Regions from separate parts of the Homo sapiens genome. Here region 1 is linked to region 2. The links come from fine-mapping of genetic effects on gene expression. Tissue or cell type: prefrontal cortex. Region 2 holds a variant in brackets; the other region holds the start of a gene. All regions are shown on one strand. Distances are from middle to middle.

Region 1 (8,108 bases), 98 kb before region 2:
GAAACTAAAAAGACATTAAGACTGTTCAAAGAGCATTTGTGTAGCTACATACTTACAAGCAATTTTATAAAGAAATACAGTAAGATTACTAGATTAGATTTTAAAATGAGAAATGCTCTCTAGTGCAATAAGAATAAACTTTGGGGTTAACTTTTCCACTGGACAGAAAGATTTGCATCTTTGTTGGACAAAAATATACAAGTTAGCCTGTGATTTCAATGCCCCAAATCTTTAAGAGTCTGAACAGGTGACATTTGTTCAGAGACCTGAGTGACATCAAGAGCAAATAGGTGAGTAGATGAAGAGTGAAGAGGGGAAGGACTGAGTGTCAAACTCCCTCCCATCTCTCTCCTACTCCATTCACTGCAAAATATTCCCTTCTCATTGATATTTGGAGGAGTGGGTTTACCTTGGGGAAATGAAAGGAAATACAGAGTCCTCTAGGCTGATGAATGATTATAGAGGATACCCTGGAGCTCAGCACATCTGGACATAAGATTAGGGAGCAAGGAACAGGGTGGGAAGGCCAGCAAAGACTCAGAGGTGAGGACACTGGGAAGAGGGTGGGCCAGCAAGTAGCTGTGTTGACTGCAGAAGATTTCACGTACTGGTTGAAGGGACTCATCTCTACTCCTCCTGTAAAAGGAGGAAAAACATAGTTATGAACTCTCGAGGGATAGTGTGAAAGGCAAGAGAATCCTTCTGTCTTTCAAATCGACATCCTCAGCATGTTCTCCCGCTGTCTCCTGGTGCTTGGGTGGCTGCTGCTGTTACACCCACAGCCATTTCCTTTAATAGGGAGGAAAAACCTTTCCTAATCCACTGTCTATCTTCCTCCCAACTTCTGCTATGTCTCACCGGCCAGAACTTGTGACCACCCTAGCGGGAAAGTAGGCTCAGAAAGTGATCTTTTTGATTTCTTAACTTCTTTATCGAAGGTGAACAAGGGAGAAGGGGGTGAGGAGTGGGAATGGATGTTGGAGCTAGTAAACCTAGGGTCTATGTGTTGTATTTCTTTTCTAATTCGGTCTCGAGGTCTCTCTCTGGGAGTGGTTATAAACGTTAGCTCTTCCGTGATGGGGCTTGGATATTTACAGTGTGCCTTCCATGGAATACTTCTTTATCCTGGCAGACGGCCTAAATCCTAGGTGTCTGACCCATGACAGGAGGTCCCTCTCACAGGAAGCTTGTTTATATTAGCAGGCACATTTGTGGCTCTTGTCTGCCCCGTGTCTGGTTTATTCCAACCAAGACAGCCACTCTCTAGGAGAGCCCTAACCAGGAAACAAGTCAGGTGTGGGTGTATAGGTCAGGTGAGACACAGAGGAGGTGAACAAAACATGTGAAATAATAGAAGCAGTTTCATTACTTACAGATCCATAATAAGAGGACAGCATGCCTCACAGGGCCAATGAGAAGGGGGACACACATGCTCAACCAGTGGGAGGGGGACGAGACAGAGAGAGGGACTTGCGGGCCAAAGCCTTCACTGTGGTCCTGGGTCCAACATCTTAGTCCCACTGTGACTAAGAGGTGGTCACTGAGGCATATCTGCAAAGTATATGTGGGGTATAGGGGTCAAGGGGATGAAGCAAGCAGCTTGTACCTGATGGTTCGATAGGGAGGTGGTCACCAGAGGCGGTCATACAAGGCAGATGTCTGGACTGACCACATAGAGGAAGTGGGAGGAGGCACAGAACTAGAGACTGTCCAGGGTGACTAAGCCCTGCTTCTAGTTTGAGAAGGTTAAACCTGTCCTCAGAATGGATAGTGAGGCCTTTGATATGTTCTCCCACCTCTTCATCAAGCATATTGACAAATCCTTTTTCACCAACTTGTCTTGCTATAACCGCCCAGTAGGTTCACCTTGCCGTCTGCCTAGATAGAGCCAATTTATCAAGACGGGGAATTGCAATAGACAAAGAATTCATGCAGAGCTGGCTGTGTGGGGGGCCAGAGTTTTATTATTACTCAAATCAGTCTCCTCCAGCAGTCGAGTTTTTAAAGACAATTTGGTGGGTGGGGAGGGGCAGTAAGTCAGGGAGTGCTGATTGGTTGGGTCGGAGATGAAACTATGGGGCATCACTGTCTTCTTGAACTGAGTCAGTTCTGGGTGGGGGTCACAAGATCAGATGGGCCAGTTTATCATCTGGGTGTTGCCAGCTGATCCATCAAGTGCAGGGTCTGCAAAACATCTGAAGCACTGATCTCAGGAGCAGTTTAGGGAGGGTCAGAATCTTGTGGCCTCCAGCTGCATGACTCCCAAACCATAATTTCTAATCTTGTGGCTAATGTTGGTAGTCTAGACCCCAGGCAAGAAGGAGGTTGGTTTTGGGAAAGGGCTTTTATTGTTTTTGTTTTAAACTGTAAATTATAAACTAATTTCCTTCCAAAGTTAGTTCAGCCTATGCCCAGGAATGAACAAGGATAGCATGGAGGTTAAGGACAAGATGGAGTTGGTTAAATTGGATCTCTTTAACTGCCTTAGTCATAATTTTGCAAAGGCAGTTTCATTGCTACCTGAATGATTTTCCTAACTTATCCATCAATCTCCTGGAAGCCTTTCTCCTTAACCAATGTCTTCAACTCTGCCAGACATGTGGCAGCTTCTTCATCAGCAGATGTGGCCTCTCCAGTTATTTTTATGTTTTTCAGTCCAAACCTATTCCTGAATCTGTGTAGCCATCCCTTACTTGCAGTAAATAGCTTGGTGTGCCTAATTTCAGGGGATCCCTTTCTTAAGTCTTCCTATAGGCTCAACACTTTCTGGCAAAACTTACTGCGGTCAGCTGAAATACGTTTTCTGTTCATGTCTCCCACCCACAAATGTAATGCCTTTTCCGTCTTTTGCTGTTGCACCTCAAACTACAAAAGTTACAGCCACAGTGCATGATAGGTGCTTAGTTAACTAGCACGAATCTTTTTCCTTCTTCACAATTTCATGGATAATTTGTTCTTATCATAGATTTTGGCAACCTCAGCATATGACTCTTTTTCTTTCCTTATTAAGTCCAGAGCTTTCACCTTTTCATTTAAAGGAAGCACTTTACAGCTTCTCCTCGGCATATCCAAATTGTCAGCACAATTCCTGTGCTTTGCGGCCATTATTAAGTAAAATAAGGGTTACCTGAACATAAGCAGGTGGTATCTCTCATTATCTCTGCTATACTACGGGTGCATCTGTTAACCAAAGCAGCTACTGAGTGGGTAATGAGTGGATACTGTACACAGCGCGGCTACCTGCGACAGATGATTCGCGTCAAGGGTGGGACAGAGTGGATGGCCCGAGATTTAATCGGGCTACTCAGAATACAGGCGGTTTGAAACTTAAGAATTGTTTATTTCTGGAGTTTTCCATTTAACATTTCTGAACCAAGGTTTGACCACAGGTAACTGACACTGCAGAAAGCATGGAGGGGGGCAAAACTACTGCATTAATATTAAAATTTTCAAATATTACTTTTTGCTAAATGAAATGTGATTCAGGACCTTCCCTCTCAAAGATCAAGCGAGATCACCACGACCTCCGCCAGCAGCGGCTCTGCACGACTCCACCCTCGCAGCCCAGCCAATCAAAGCTACAGGTTGAGTGACGTCACTCTCCTGAAAGTCCTCGCTAATTCCCGTACTCCTTTTCTCCGCCCTGCACCTCTACTGTTTGCTACAAGTGGCCAGCAGCCATTTTGGATTTGGGCGGAAATGAAATTAAAACTGTGCTGTTAAAAGCCTAAAAATTCAAGTCAAGACAAACTTAAGCATTCGACCAACACATCTAGAAAGGGGGCATCTTCGTGGACTAACTAGACCACTGGGGCAGTGAGTGAAACTCGGTATCGTCGCGGCGCCCACACTTAAGATGGCACCGGCCTGAGACTCAGCTGTGCGGCCTCTCTACCTCGGTTCCTGGTTAGTTGGCCTCATTGGTGGCGTCGGAGGGAGGAAGGTGGGCCTTCTGTCCCGTTTCCGGACCCGTCTCTATGGTGTAGGAGAAACCCGGCCCCCAGAAGATTGTGGGTGTAGTGGCCACAGCCTTACAGGCAGGCAGGGGTGGTTGGTGTCAACAGGGGGGCCAACAGGGTACCAGAGCCAAGACCCTCGGCCTCCTCCCCCGCCGCCTTCCTGCAGGTAACAGGGAGCCCTGCGCTGCGCCCCCAGTCCTTGCAGGACTGCGCCGTGGGGGAAGGGGCCGGGCGGGGAGGAGGCGGCGGGCGCGCGCCCCGCTCGCGGGTCTGCGCTCTGGGGCCCGCGCGGGAGCGAGCTCGGCGCGGCGCCGGCGGCCGGTTGAGCTGTGCTCTCAGCTTCGGAGCAGCCTCCCCTTGCTGATTGTGGGGCGCCCTGTAATCTGCGCTTCGCGGGCGGCCCCCGACGGGTGAGGCGCCCGCGGCCAGAGCTCTCCAAGGCGGCCGCGGAGTCGGTCCTCGCAGGGAGGTGTGGAAGGTGAGGGGCCAGCGAAGCGAGAGCGGCGCCTCGGCCCTTCAGTGACCCCGCGGGGTCGCGGCAAGCAGGGCGAGGGTGCTCGGCTGGGCGGGTCACTGTCCCGGGGCGGCAGTGCCCGAGCCCGGGGGGATCCTGGGGGCGCGCCCGCCCTCGGGAAGGCGGCCTCATTCTTGATCCAAGACCAGTGCCCGTCCCCCAAGGCCCAGCTGGCTCCTGTCTTGGCATAGTGCTTTCTGTTTAGAATAAAGATGAAACATTTCTCGGAAGAGCATATTCAGGAATCCATGTGAAATTCTCGGAGTCGGGTCTCGAATTTTGGGGGTCACTGTTAACTGCTGTTTTTAGGGACCCATGTTCTTATAAAATGTATCTTGAGCTGAAATCACAATTATTTTGGTCCATAAAGACTTAATTGTGTATTGCTTGTCAGCTAGCAATGCTGGACTGAGTTCCGCAGAGGGAATATATACCTGAAACACGAAAGCAAGGGCCGGAGTAACGTTACCGCTGGATACCAGAATATCAGCCAGTACAGTGCATCCTTAATACTCAGAGTGCAAGCCATTATCTTTGGAACTTTCAAGCTAAGGGAGCTAGGACCAAGGTAGTCTCGAGTAATTGCTGGGAAAAGAAAATATTTGGTAGAAACATTTCCATAGAGCACACGGGTTTCTTAGTTGAGTGTATGAGTTGCCCTTTGACCTAGACAAGGGTTTTCTTAATCTACAAGCGGTCCAGAAATTTTATGTGCTGCCCAAGTAGGCAAAAGAGTGGAGGGAGATTATTAAAGGGAAGACTGATGCATATTCAAGTCAGAGACTGTCAACTCAGCATTTTATTATAGAGTGGAGATGCTAAGTGCTACGAAATACCTATTACGGGATACTAGGATATCCTTTTCTACCTTCTTGTGACTTTTTAATTTCAAAGCTAATGAGCAAGATTTTGTGTTTTCCCCGTCCTCAAAACAACAGGAAAGCATTTTGGAAGGCCAAGTGTTTTTCTTACATTTCAATAAATCAATTTTAGCTGAATTATCATTTTTAAAGCACTGGCGGGCATGGTGGCACATGCCTGTAATCTCAGCAACTAGGGAGGCTGGGGAGGGCAGGTAGCTTGAGCCCAGGAATTCCAGGTTACAGTGAGATAGGATAGCGCCAATGCACTCTAGGCCAGCAGCAACAGAACAAGACCATATCTCTATTTAAAACAAAAAACAAACAAAAAAACTTCTTCATATAACAGTATTTGTGCTTCTTTAGATATATTAGTGTGAAGAATTACTGCTTCAAAACATTCTCAAATTGCAATAATCAGCACACCTTTTTAATTTTCCCCCAATAAAGTTTGCACTGGGAACATACAATATAATCTTACCACTGTCAGTATTACACTGATGGTATCAGTGGACTTCTGTCAAAGTTAACATGCTTTCAAAACAAGAAAATGGCATCCTTTCCAGTTCTCTCAAGAAATTGAGTCATCCCTTTTTAATTTTTAAGTGATTTTTTTAGTCTTAGACCTAAAATACAGTAAGAAAAATGAATTTTAACTACTTCCTAATGCTTTTATAACTTTGTTAATTATAGTGGAATTCATATGAAATCTAAGGTTAATAGCTATTGCAAGGCCAATGTTCCCACAAGGAAGTATTTTGCTATTTAGAAATAGCTAAGTAAATTAAATGTTCCTTTCTCTTGCCTCTGGTGACTGCCATTCATCAGCCAGAGCACTGACCCTGAATCCTGGTGGCAGTCTTATCTCCCATGAGGATTAATATTAACACTTAAATAAACAGCATGATTTCCTGCGAAGAAGATATTCATTAATATACAGTCCCTTATTCTCTGCTTTTCTCTTAATTGTGTGTTGATTTTGGAAAGCTGTGTTTTGTGGGTGAGAGAGAGACGGTCAGACTAGCTTCAGATACTTTCAAAGTAACACTTCTGTAACTCACTCTTCCAGTCTGACTGGCTTTTCAGGCAGGAGTTGGAGACCAAGTAGAGCTTTCTGCCTATGAAATGGCAATTAGTTTCAAAGAACATAGACCCATTCAAGTTACCTGAGGAAAAGGGGGCTGGTTGTAAGGGTGTCAATGGGATGTTAGGGTATCTGGGTGGAATTAGATTTGAGGCTGGGCTTCCGGTAGTCTTGAGATGGATAGTAGTAATGTGCCCCCTAAGTATGACTAAGCTACGGTCCCAGTGTTTGCTTTTTAAAATTTTACTACCAACTGACTTCCTCTGGAAAGTTTCTGACTTCATGTGGCTTTGGTTTGCCGTAGCTCCACCTCCACCTCATAGCATCCTTCTACCTTCGGCTATGCTTCTAATAGGCAAAAATTGTTCTTAGTTCAAATTCCTGGGGGAGACAATGATCTGGCCAGTTTATCTCTTCACTCAGGCCATGAAATTGATGGCTAATTTGTGAATTAACCGCCCTTTGGCCCAGGATAGGTACCTGCCAACATTAACTGTGCCCAAGAAGAGGTGGCAAGATCAAGTGCTAAGCATAATCCTCCCTACTCAGCAGGAGGTTGTGACAATCTGGCCAGCACTCTATCTCCAGAACAGAGGGATTAGCATTGTTGCTTTTACCCATGGTCCCACATAAACTTTTTATTTGTAGTCCCAGTAGAAAGGTGAATGTTACCATAGTTGCCATACTTGGCATTTCTTTTAGTACTGTTTTTTGCTTCTCTGTCATTTTTAAGAAAGATACATTGCCAGGTAGGTAGGAATTCAGTGAATTTGTTACAAAGCAGATTTAGTTCTTATTCTCAGCAACATTTTTAGATTTTGAAAATCTTCAATTTTAGATAGCTTTAGCCTTTATACATGTGTTTCTTATATAACGATGGTTGTGGATCGGTAGGCACTTTAAATTTTGTTCTAGGCATGTGTTTTGAGCAGCATTACATACCCAGTGTAGAAGGTGTTGTATGGAATTTCACCGAAGTGGGGAAAAATTCCAAGTAGAGGGTCAATGTGTAATGATTATTGAGTTTATATTTGTCCAAAGAATACAGATTTTAAACAAATTTTTAAAGGCCTACATAGAATTATTGGCCGTATTTGTAGCAGTTTGCTTTCTACATTGCCAGAGTTAGTAAGAACTCTATTTTCTAATTTTTATATTATGGTAAAGCCACCACTGAAAACTGACTGCCACAGATTTTTCAGACATACGTTGTTTGGCCTATATAGGTTTAGAAAACATTTGATTCAACATTGAAAAATATGGAGATTTCCACAAAACTATTCAGGCTCTTGGTTCCTCACGATAAGTGGCATGATCTGACAGTTCTGAAACTGCAGTCCTGGTTGGAACTCTGTGATAGCCACTGTCTTCAGAATGCAAGCCTCTCACAGTAGGTCCCATGCACGCACAGTAGGTCCCTCTGCCAGGCTGCCAGTACTGCTGGGGCACTGCACATTACCTGTTGTCACCCTGTGAGTTTGTATCCCTGTTGTCAAGAAAGCTGTTCATATTGTAGAAGATTTGGAAGGTGCAGGCAAGTGTGTGTGTATAAAATTACCTATAATCTGACCTTCCACTGGAAACCTCTGTTAATACTTCAACATATATTTTTCAAGTCTGTGTGTATGTATACATATATTTCTTTTCAAAACAACTTTGAGGCGTAATTGATACAGAATAAATGAAAAAAG
Region 2 (8,108 bases):
GGAGATGGAGGCTGCAGTGAGCTAGCTATGTTCGCACCACTACACTCCAGTTTTGGTGACAAAGCAAGACCCTGTCCCCCAAAACAAACAAACAAAAACACAGGCCAAGCATCATGGCTCAGACCTGTAATCACAGCACTTTAGAAGATGGAGGCAGGAGAATAGCTTGAACCCAGGAGTTCAGGCTGCAGTGAGCTATGATCGCACTACTGCTCTCCAGCCTGGGCAATAGAGTGAGATCTTGTCTTGAAAACAAAACAAAACAAACTCTGGGGCCAGGCTCAGCGGCTCACGCCTGTAATCCCAGCACTTATGGAGGCCAAGGCAGGAGGATCACTTGAGCTCAGGAGTTTTGAGACCAGCCTGGCCAACATGGTGAAACCCCATCTCTACTAAAAATACAAAAATTAGCCAGGCGTGGTGAAGCATGCCTGTAATCCCAGCTACTTGGGAGACTGAGGCAGGAGAATCACCTGAACCTGGAAGGTGGAGGTTGCAGTGAGCAAAGATCACGCCACTGCACTCCAACCTGGGTGACAAAACGAGACTCCAACAAAAACAAAGGAAAAAAAAATTAGGTCCCATTACACAACGTAGATTCAAATTATAAATGAATATTCCACAACCAAGTGAACTCTAAATAGAAAAGCTAACTCAAAATATGAGTAAACTGAGCAGTCTAAACTCTCTTCTGACTAGAAGAATGAATCTCATCAAGTAAGACTGATGAAGACATGAAAATGAGAAAGTCAACTTCCTCCAAATGGTAAATTTGTTATCACCTAGACAATCAGCTTTTGGCAATTTAGAAAGCATTTTCTAAATGACACTAAACATGTTAGAGGCTGATAGCTATTCAGTAGACTGCATATCATGTTTTATATAGGTCTAATCGTAACAACTAACGTTTAATATTTACAATTTGTTTATACATACATCATCAACAAAACACTTTGGTATTTATCCAAAATGTAATTTAAAACTTTTAAGTGCTGGAATTTGAATGAATTTGTTCATTTCAAGTAACTGAAGGTTATAAAGGCTGTAACATAGAGAACAGTTACATTTCAAGGGAATACAAAACTGTAAGAACACATCTACCGAGGTATGTGGGGACTCGGACCTTAACATCAAAGTACATCATACAGTTAAAACAATTTTACTTACGAATATGCTCAATCCAACTGTCAGAATGTTGAGACAATGAGTAGGATAATTAAGGAAGATACTAGTATCATAGTAATAGGGTATTCATTACTCAGAACAAACCTAAAAAAAAAATAAAACCCTTTTGAAATTTAAGCAATGACTCATAAGAGATTGGAATTGGACTCAAATTACTGGCTTAATTTTGCTTTTAAAAACTTAAGATTTATTAGGTAAACAGTATTGTGAAAACACATTAAAGAAATATTTTGAAAATTGCCCAGGGACAAACTTGCCTTTTCAAACTATGCATAGTCATGAAATATTTTTGACAGATGAGAAACAATGCTACAATAATCCACAGGTTTATGATTTATTTATTTATTTTTTTTTAGAGAGAGGGTCTCGCTCGGGGCCAAGTGGGGTGGCTCACACCTGTAATCCCAGCACTTTGGGAGACCTAGATGGGCGAACAAGAGGTCAGGAGTTGAAGACCAGCCTGGCCAGTATGGTGAGAACCCGTCTCTACTTAAAATACAAAATAATTAGCTGGGCATGGTGGCGCACACCTGTAATCCCAGCTGCTCAGGAGGCTGAGGCAGGAGAATCACTTGAAACTGGGAGGCAGAGGTTGCAGTGAGCCAAGATCGCGCCATTGCACTCCAGCATAGGCGAGACTCCGTCTCAAAAAAAAAAAAAAAGAGAGACGGTCTTGCTGTCACCCAGGATGGAGTGCGGTGACATGATCACACCTCACTGCAGCCTCAAGCTCCTGGGCTAAAGTGATCCTCCCATACCAGCCTCTCAAGGAGCTGGGATTAGAGATGCACACCACCATGCCCAGTTTGTACTTCCGATTTCTATTACAAGAAATTTTTCTTTCCTCAACATTTCTATTGTACTTAATTTATACCTAAGTCACTCATCACCTTCTATCTTTTTTCATATTACTTACATACCTATCTTACCAACTTTATTTGACTGAAATTCTTCTGCACATAGCAGCTTACAAATACACGACAATAAATTCTTCATATACACCATCAAGAATAATTGTTAGAATAATTGTTAGAAATGTTTTACTGTAACAACACCATAAGAATCATCAAAGAATGTTAATAAGAAAAATGAATAACCCGGCCGGGCACGGTGGCTCACGCCTGTAGTCCCAGCACTTTGGGAGGCTGAGGCAGGCGGATCACGAGGTCAGGAGTTCGAGACCAGCCTGGCCAACATGGTGAAACCATCTCTACTAAAGATACAAAAAATTAGCCGGGCATGGTGGCACGTGCCTGTAATCTCAGCTACTCGGGAGGCTGAGGAAGGAGAATCACTTGAACCTGGCTGCTGTGAGCTGAGATCGCACCACTGCACTCCAGCCTGGGTGACAGGGTGAGACTCCGTCTCAAAACAAACAAACAAACAAAAAAAAACCCATAGTCCTACCACAGTAATACAAGAATTCATTCCTCTTCCGAAATCTTATTTTTTACAGCAGCAATCAAAATGAGGTCATCATTAACTCAAATTTGAGTTCAGTAGGGTAGAATTGGCCTCATGAAAAAATTTCAGTAAAGCTCAAATAATTACCAGCTGTTCCAAAATTAGTCAGTTATGATTATGCAGACATGCAGGTAAGGCCTGGAAAATAATACGTAAAATGCAAAACATGAAAAAGATTTTGGGGGGTAATGGCATTGTAGATTTATTGCAAATTTTTCATTTGTTAAAATAGTGAAGCTAAAATACTACCATTAAGCTGAAAAAAAGTATTGTCTAATTAGACTCCCAAGTATTTTTAAAACATGAAATATTTTTAGCCCTTTAATGAATGCTTACTATGTGTCAGGCACTGTTCTAGGTGCTGAGGGTAACGCTGTGAAGAAAATCAACATCCTGCCTTTATGAACTTTGCAACATAATGTGTAGAAGTGGAAAATATACAAAGCAAACAAGAGCATTTCTTTTAATGGTAATGTGCTTTTTAGAAAACTGAACAGGCCAATGTGATACAAGTGTAAGACTGCGTTTGGGGGAACTGCCTAAGATTGAAGGCTCTGAAAAAGCCCCTCTAAGGAAGTGACATTTGGGCCAAGACATAAACATGAAATATGCAAAAGGCTGAGAGAACAAATCAGGCTGAGCAAAAAGATCTTGAGGTAGGTGAGCCTAATGTATTCATGAACAGAGTGTAGTTAATTAACTAGGTATGAGAGAAGGGCAAGGCTTAGATCACCTGGAACCTTGAAGGTAAAGTGGTTTAAAAAGGGAAATGACGAGATCTATGTTTTTCCCCTCTTAACTTTTTTGGAATAATGAATTATGAGTAGAAACAAGGAAACTATTAATACTCCAAGTGAGAGGTGATAAGGGTTTGGAATCAGAGTGGTAGCAATGAGGATGGAGATAAACGGATTGATTCAAGACATAGTTTGGAATCAGAAACAATAGAACTTACTGATCGGGTGTGTGAGACAGAGAGGATTCAAGGTTTCAGTTTGTGAAACCATTTACTCAGATGAAGAAAACTAGAGGAAGTTTGGGCTTTTTTGAATATGTCGTTTGAAGTGCAAAGCTAGGTGGGAATGTTGACTTTCAACTTAATGAAGTCTCTCTATAAGCTTGTGGGGAAGAAGAGGAATCACGTTCCGTGTCTCTGTTCTCCCAAAGCCTAACACCATGTCTCACACACATTATGCACGCAGTTTAAGTGTTTTTGAATGTTTTGAGGGTGGCTATTTGTTTTCAAGTTGAAACTCCTTGAAGACGGCAGTTCTGTA[C/T]CTACACAAAAACTAAAAAAGGGGGCTTTGGCACCTTCTGAGATTTTGCTAATGCCTAGGTGAATGACTTCTATGTGATTACATAGGGCTTTAGCTGCACAATATTTGTGCAGTATTGAGATTCTCTCAAGTGAAGGTTACTTTTTTTCTTTTGAGTGTAATTGTATAAAGCTGGGCTCAAATGTTGTGAAAAAGATACATATACATATGGTTTACCATGAAAGGCTAGGATTCCAGGCACATTTACAACCACAAAGGCATGAGACCAATCAAGAATGTGCTGCACCCGGACGAAGAAGGCGCTAAGCGCCTCAAATCCAACAGTTGAAAGCCAACAACAAGCGGAAGAACTCTTTCAGAAAGACTCCAGCCTGGGTGAGAGGAGTGAGAACTTGTCAAAAAAAAAGAAAGAAAGAAGAAAAAGAGGTCTGAGAGGGGAAGGAGGAAAATCATTTTTATTTACTGAACATCTTTTAAAGATTTCACACCACAGAACTATGCCCTTTAATTCTTATAACGCTAAGAAAGCCCTTATTCATATTCACCACCCTTTTTACGGGAGACAAAAGCTCAGAGTATCTCGCTTTACCTCAAACTATTAAGAGCCAGAGCTATCGTCATACCGCAGGTCTCAGTCCTTGCCTCCCCCATTATCCACTAGCAAAAGTATTTACACTTAATTGCAAGCAACGAGTACAGAAAAACTGAAAGAAGGAATGGAAGAAAACGCCACATCCACTGCTAAAACCTTGGGTCAGAACACGTCCGCGAGGCTTTCCAGGGCCAAAGCCTTACTTAAATCTACCACGGTTGTCGCTTCCCCTCCAGTCCCTCACTTTTCATCCCACTCACTGACAAAGAAAAGAGGGGGTTCAGGCCGCGGTAATATAACCCAGCCTGGCGGTGGGTCTGAAGGGACAGAAGAGAAAGGTTCGCGACCCGCCCACACCCTTCTCTAGGTAGAAGTGACAACCAAGGAAGGATATGAGGAGTCGGGGCAGGACGGACGGCAGTTCCCGGCGGCATAGCTCCTCTGGCCAGCTACTTAATTCTTCCAGGGGAACCGCGCTAGCTGGGACCGCACCTTCCTGAGACATACTTTCGTCAAACAGGAGAGCTTCAAACCAGACCCGCCAAAGCCCAGACCGGAAACTCGCAGTCCCGCCAACCCTTGCGCGCTCTCCGCCGGCTCCAAAACCATAGAGAGGAGGGCGGCTGGTTTCTTGGTGAGCCCGGGTCCCTCAAGGCCGGAAAGAAAGTCGGGCTTCTCTAGCCCCTGGAGGACTCGACTCACTGGTGCGCGATTTAGGTCCGGAGGAGGCGTTGTGAGGTGAGCTTTTTCAGAAGCGCGATCCCAGGACACGTCGGGAAGCAAGCATCCCCAGGTCTGGATCACTGTAAACATTACATTCAAATGGGGAGGTGAGGGCCAGAAGTCCCCACTTCTGGGGTCGGATTTGTTCCGGGACCTGCAGCCGGAAGTGACTCCAAGCCTTGCAGCGTGATGGGAGAGGAAAGAGGCGCGTTCCTAGCCGCGGGACTGGGTGACCCGCCTCTCCCCCAAATTGTAAATCTTGTATAAAGGGAACAAAGATCCCACTTGCCAGAACTGTGAAAATTGAGGCAGATGGTATAGTGTCTAGCGCAGTAGATAGAAGATTCTCAATAAAGTTGCTTCTTATTTCTACAGGTCTCTCCAAACTACTGCAGTGCCCTAGTTTGCGTTTGCTCTGCCACCGAATTAGTCTTTACTAATTATTGCCAAATTACCCCCACTTCTATACACTTAGGGCTGCTGTTCTCGACTAAATGTTTGGAGTGAAGTCTTGGATGAATTTACACACACCAGGCCATACCTATGCATGTTTTTAAAGGGACGCTGACTTACCAAAATAAAATACTGCACCTCTTCTGTAAAAGACAGAAGTGAAGTTATTCTGGAAGCTTAGGGGGTGAATATGGTTGGACACAAATCAAGACAGCTGAAAGACAGCAAGTAGCTAGGCTGTCCTGTCTGAATATCTTGGACTTTATGTTTGTCCAGGTGGTAGTGGTGGTGGTTGCTGTTGTTCTTCTGTTTGTTTTTATAGTTGATTTTCTTCTCCCACTTTGGAACCCTTAAGGTGTGTATGAGTGTCCAAATCTCTTATCTCTCTCTCTTCCCCACAACTTTTTAAGAAAAAGCAGCTGTATGGTGGGACAGGGAGGGGTGGGGGTGGCTGTTTAATATTACACTTTAGTGAAATGTGCCATTTTGCTTTAATCATCATTTTCTTTCTTTTTTTTTTTTTTTTCTTTCCAGAGCTGCTTGGAAAGAGGACCAAAGACGTCTAAAAAGTCATTTGGAAATATCTCTAAATATTTGTTACCATGTATAAGCTGCTAAAGAGAAATTGGGCCCAACAAAACTAATTGAATAATTGAGGCAGATTTGTGTGTATCATCAAATTCTATCCAGAAGTTGAAGAATCTGAATTTAAAGATTGTGTGCATTTAATAAGAGGATGACCTTTCAGTTTAATTTCACTATAGAAGACCATCTGGAAAATGAATTAACACCCATTAGAGATGGAGCTTTGACCCTGGATTCCTCAAAAGAGCTGTCAGTCTCAGAAAGTCAAAAAGGAGAAGAGAGGGACAGAAAATGTTCTGCAGAACAATTTGACTTGCCTCAGGATCACTTGTGGGAACATAAGTCAATGGAAAATGCAGCTCCCTCTCAAGACACAGACAGTCCACTCAGTGCAGCCAGCAGTTCAAGGAACTTGGAGCCACATGGAAAACAGCCCTCCTTGAGAGCTGCCAAAGAGCATGCTATGCCTAAAGATTTAAAGAAGATGTTAGAAAATAAAGTCATAGAAACATTACCAGGTTTCCAGCATGTTAAGTTATCAGTAGTGAAAACCATCTTGTTGAAAGAGAACTTCCCTGGAGAAAACATAGTTTCAAAAAGCTTTTCTTCTCACTCTGATCTGATTACAGGTGTTTATGAGGGAGGCTTAAAAATCTGGGAATGTACCTTTGACCTCCTGGCTTATTTCACAAAGGCCAAAGTGAAATTTGCTGGGAAAAAAGTCTTGGATCTTGGTTGTGGATCAGGTTTACTAGGTATAACTGCATTCAAGGGAGGGTCCAAAGAAATTCACTTTCAAGATTATAACAGTATGGTGATTGATGAAGTAACCTTACCTAATGTAGTAGCTAACTCCACTTTGGAAGATGAAGAAAATGATGTAAATGAGCCAGATGTGAAAAGATGCAGGAAACCAAAAGTAACACAACTATATAAATGCCGATTTTTTTCTGGTGAGTGGTCTGAGTTTTGTAAGCTTGTACTAAGTAGTGAAAAACTTTTTGTAAAATATGATCTCATTCTCACCTCAGAAACCATTTACAACCCAGATTATTATAGTAATTTGCACCAGACTTTCCTTAGACTGTTAAGTAAAAATGGACGTGTACTTTTGGCCAGCAAAGCACATTATTTTGGTGTAGGTGGAGGTGTTCATCTCTTTCAGAAGTTTGTAGAAGAAAGAGATGTTTTTAAGACCAGAATACTCAAAATAATTGATGAAGGATTGAAGAGGTTCATAATTGAAATAACTTTTAAGTTTCCTGGTTAATTAACATTCACTGAGTATCCAAAATGAAATAAACAGAAGGACCAAAAATTTGAGTGTTTGATTTCTGTTTTGCTATTATTTTTTCTGAAATTTTGATGTTGTTTGTTTAGTTTTGTTTATCCAAATTGTAAGTGAGCTATGTTACCAGTCTTTTACTCACTAGGTGAAACTGAGAAGGTATCCTCGTGCATTTGATGAGATCTCCTGGGAAATCATTTTGTAAGAAAATCCGGTATTCTCCATCTTCATTCTATTTGACCTTTTACCACCTTTGACGTTACATGAAATTGTTCCCAGGAAATCCTGCCATTTCTTCTCTCAAGTCTGTGAATTTCTTCCCAGTCTTCGTTAGTTCCTTGTTCACATTAATATATATCACTAAATATTAGGTTGGGGCCTTATGTAAATAGGAAGAGGTTTTTGTTTCGTTTTGTTTTTATATTCATTTACCTTGTATAGTAAGGATCAGAATGCTGAGAATTTAACTAAATTCACATGGAGATGAGGAAACAAAGGGAATCTGTGACAGAGTATAAAAGTAATACAGAGAACTTGTACT

Alleles and levels. Positions count from the first base shown, and alleles are read on the strand shown. Sizes are in standard deviations (SD) of each study's normalised expression.
With allele T in place of C in region 2, the expression in prefrontal cortex of the gene that starts at base 4,017 in region 1 is lower (small effect, 0.37 SD a copy in GTEx).

Evidence for each region. PIP is the estimated chance that this variant, and not a neighbour inherited with it, causes the effect.
Region 1: SCYL3 starts here. The variant in region 2 is fine-mapped to the expression of SCYL3 in prefrontal cortex (GTEx, PIP above 0.99). The same link has a PIP of 0.9 or more in substantia nigra and whole blood.

Annotation. Positions count from the first base shown.
Region 1 is chr1:169,889,805-169,897,912 of GRCh38, reverse strand. It overlaps SCYL3 (SCY1 like pseudokinase 3), which reads left to right and starts at 4,017. Exons shown (of 13, transcript NM_020423.7): 1 at 4,017-4,125. RefSeq lists enhancers at 3,590-3,999, 3,674-4,261, 4,262-4,849 and silencers at 4,200-4,279, 4,520-4,579.
Region 2 is chr1:169,792,018-169,800,125 of GRCh38, reverse strand. It overlaps METTL18 (methyltransferase 18, RPL3 N3(tau)-histidine), which reads left to right and starts at 5,219. Exons shown (of 2, transcript NM_033418.4): 1 at 5,219-5,311; 2 at 6,229-7,597. The coding sequence starts at 6,431. The coding sequence ends at 7,549. FIRRM (FIGNL1 interacting regulator of recombination and mitosis) reads right to left here and starts at 5,086. Exons shown (of 25, transcript NM_001320047.2): 1 at 5,011-5,086; 2 at 4,143-4,297; 3 at 1,168-1,269. RefSeq lists an enhancer at 5,167-5,486. The variant C/T (reference allele first, on the strand shown) is at 3,927.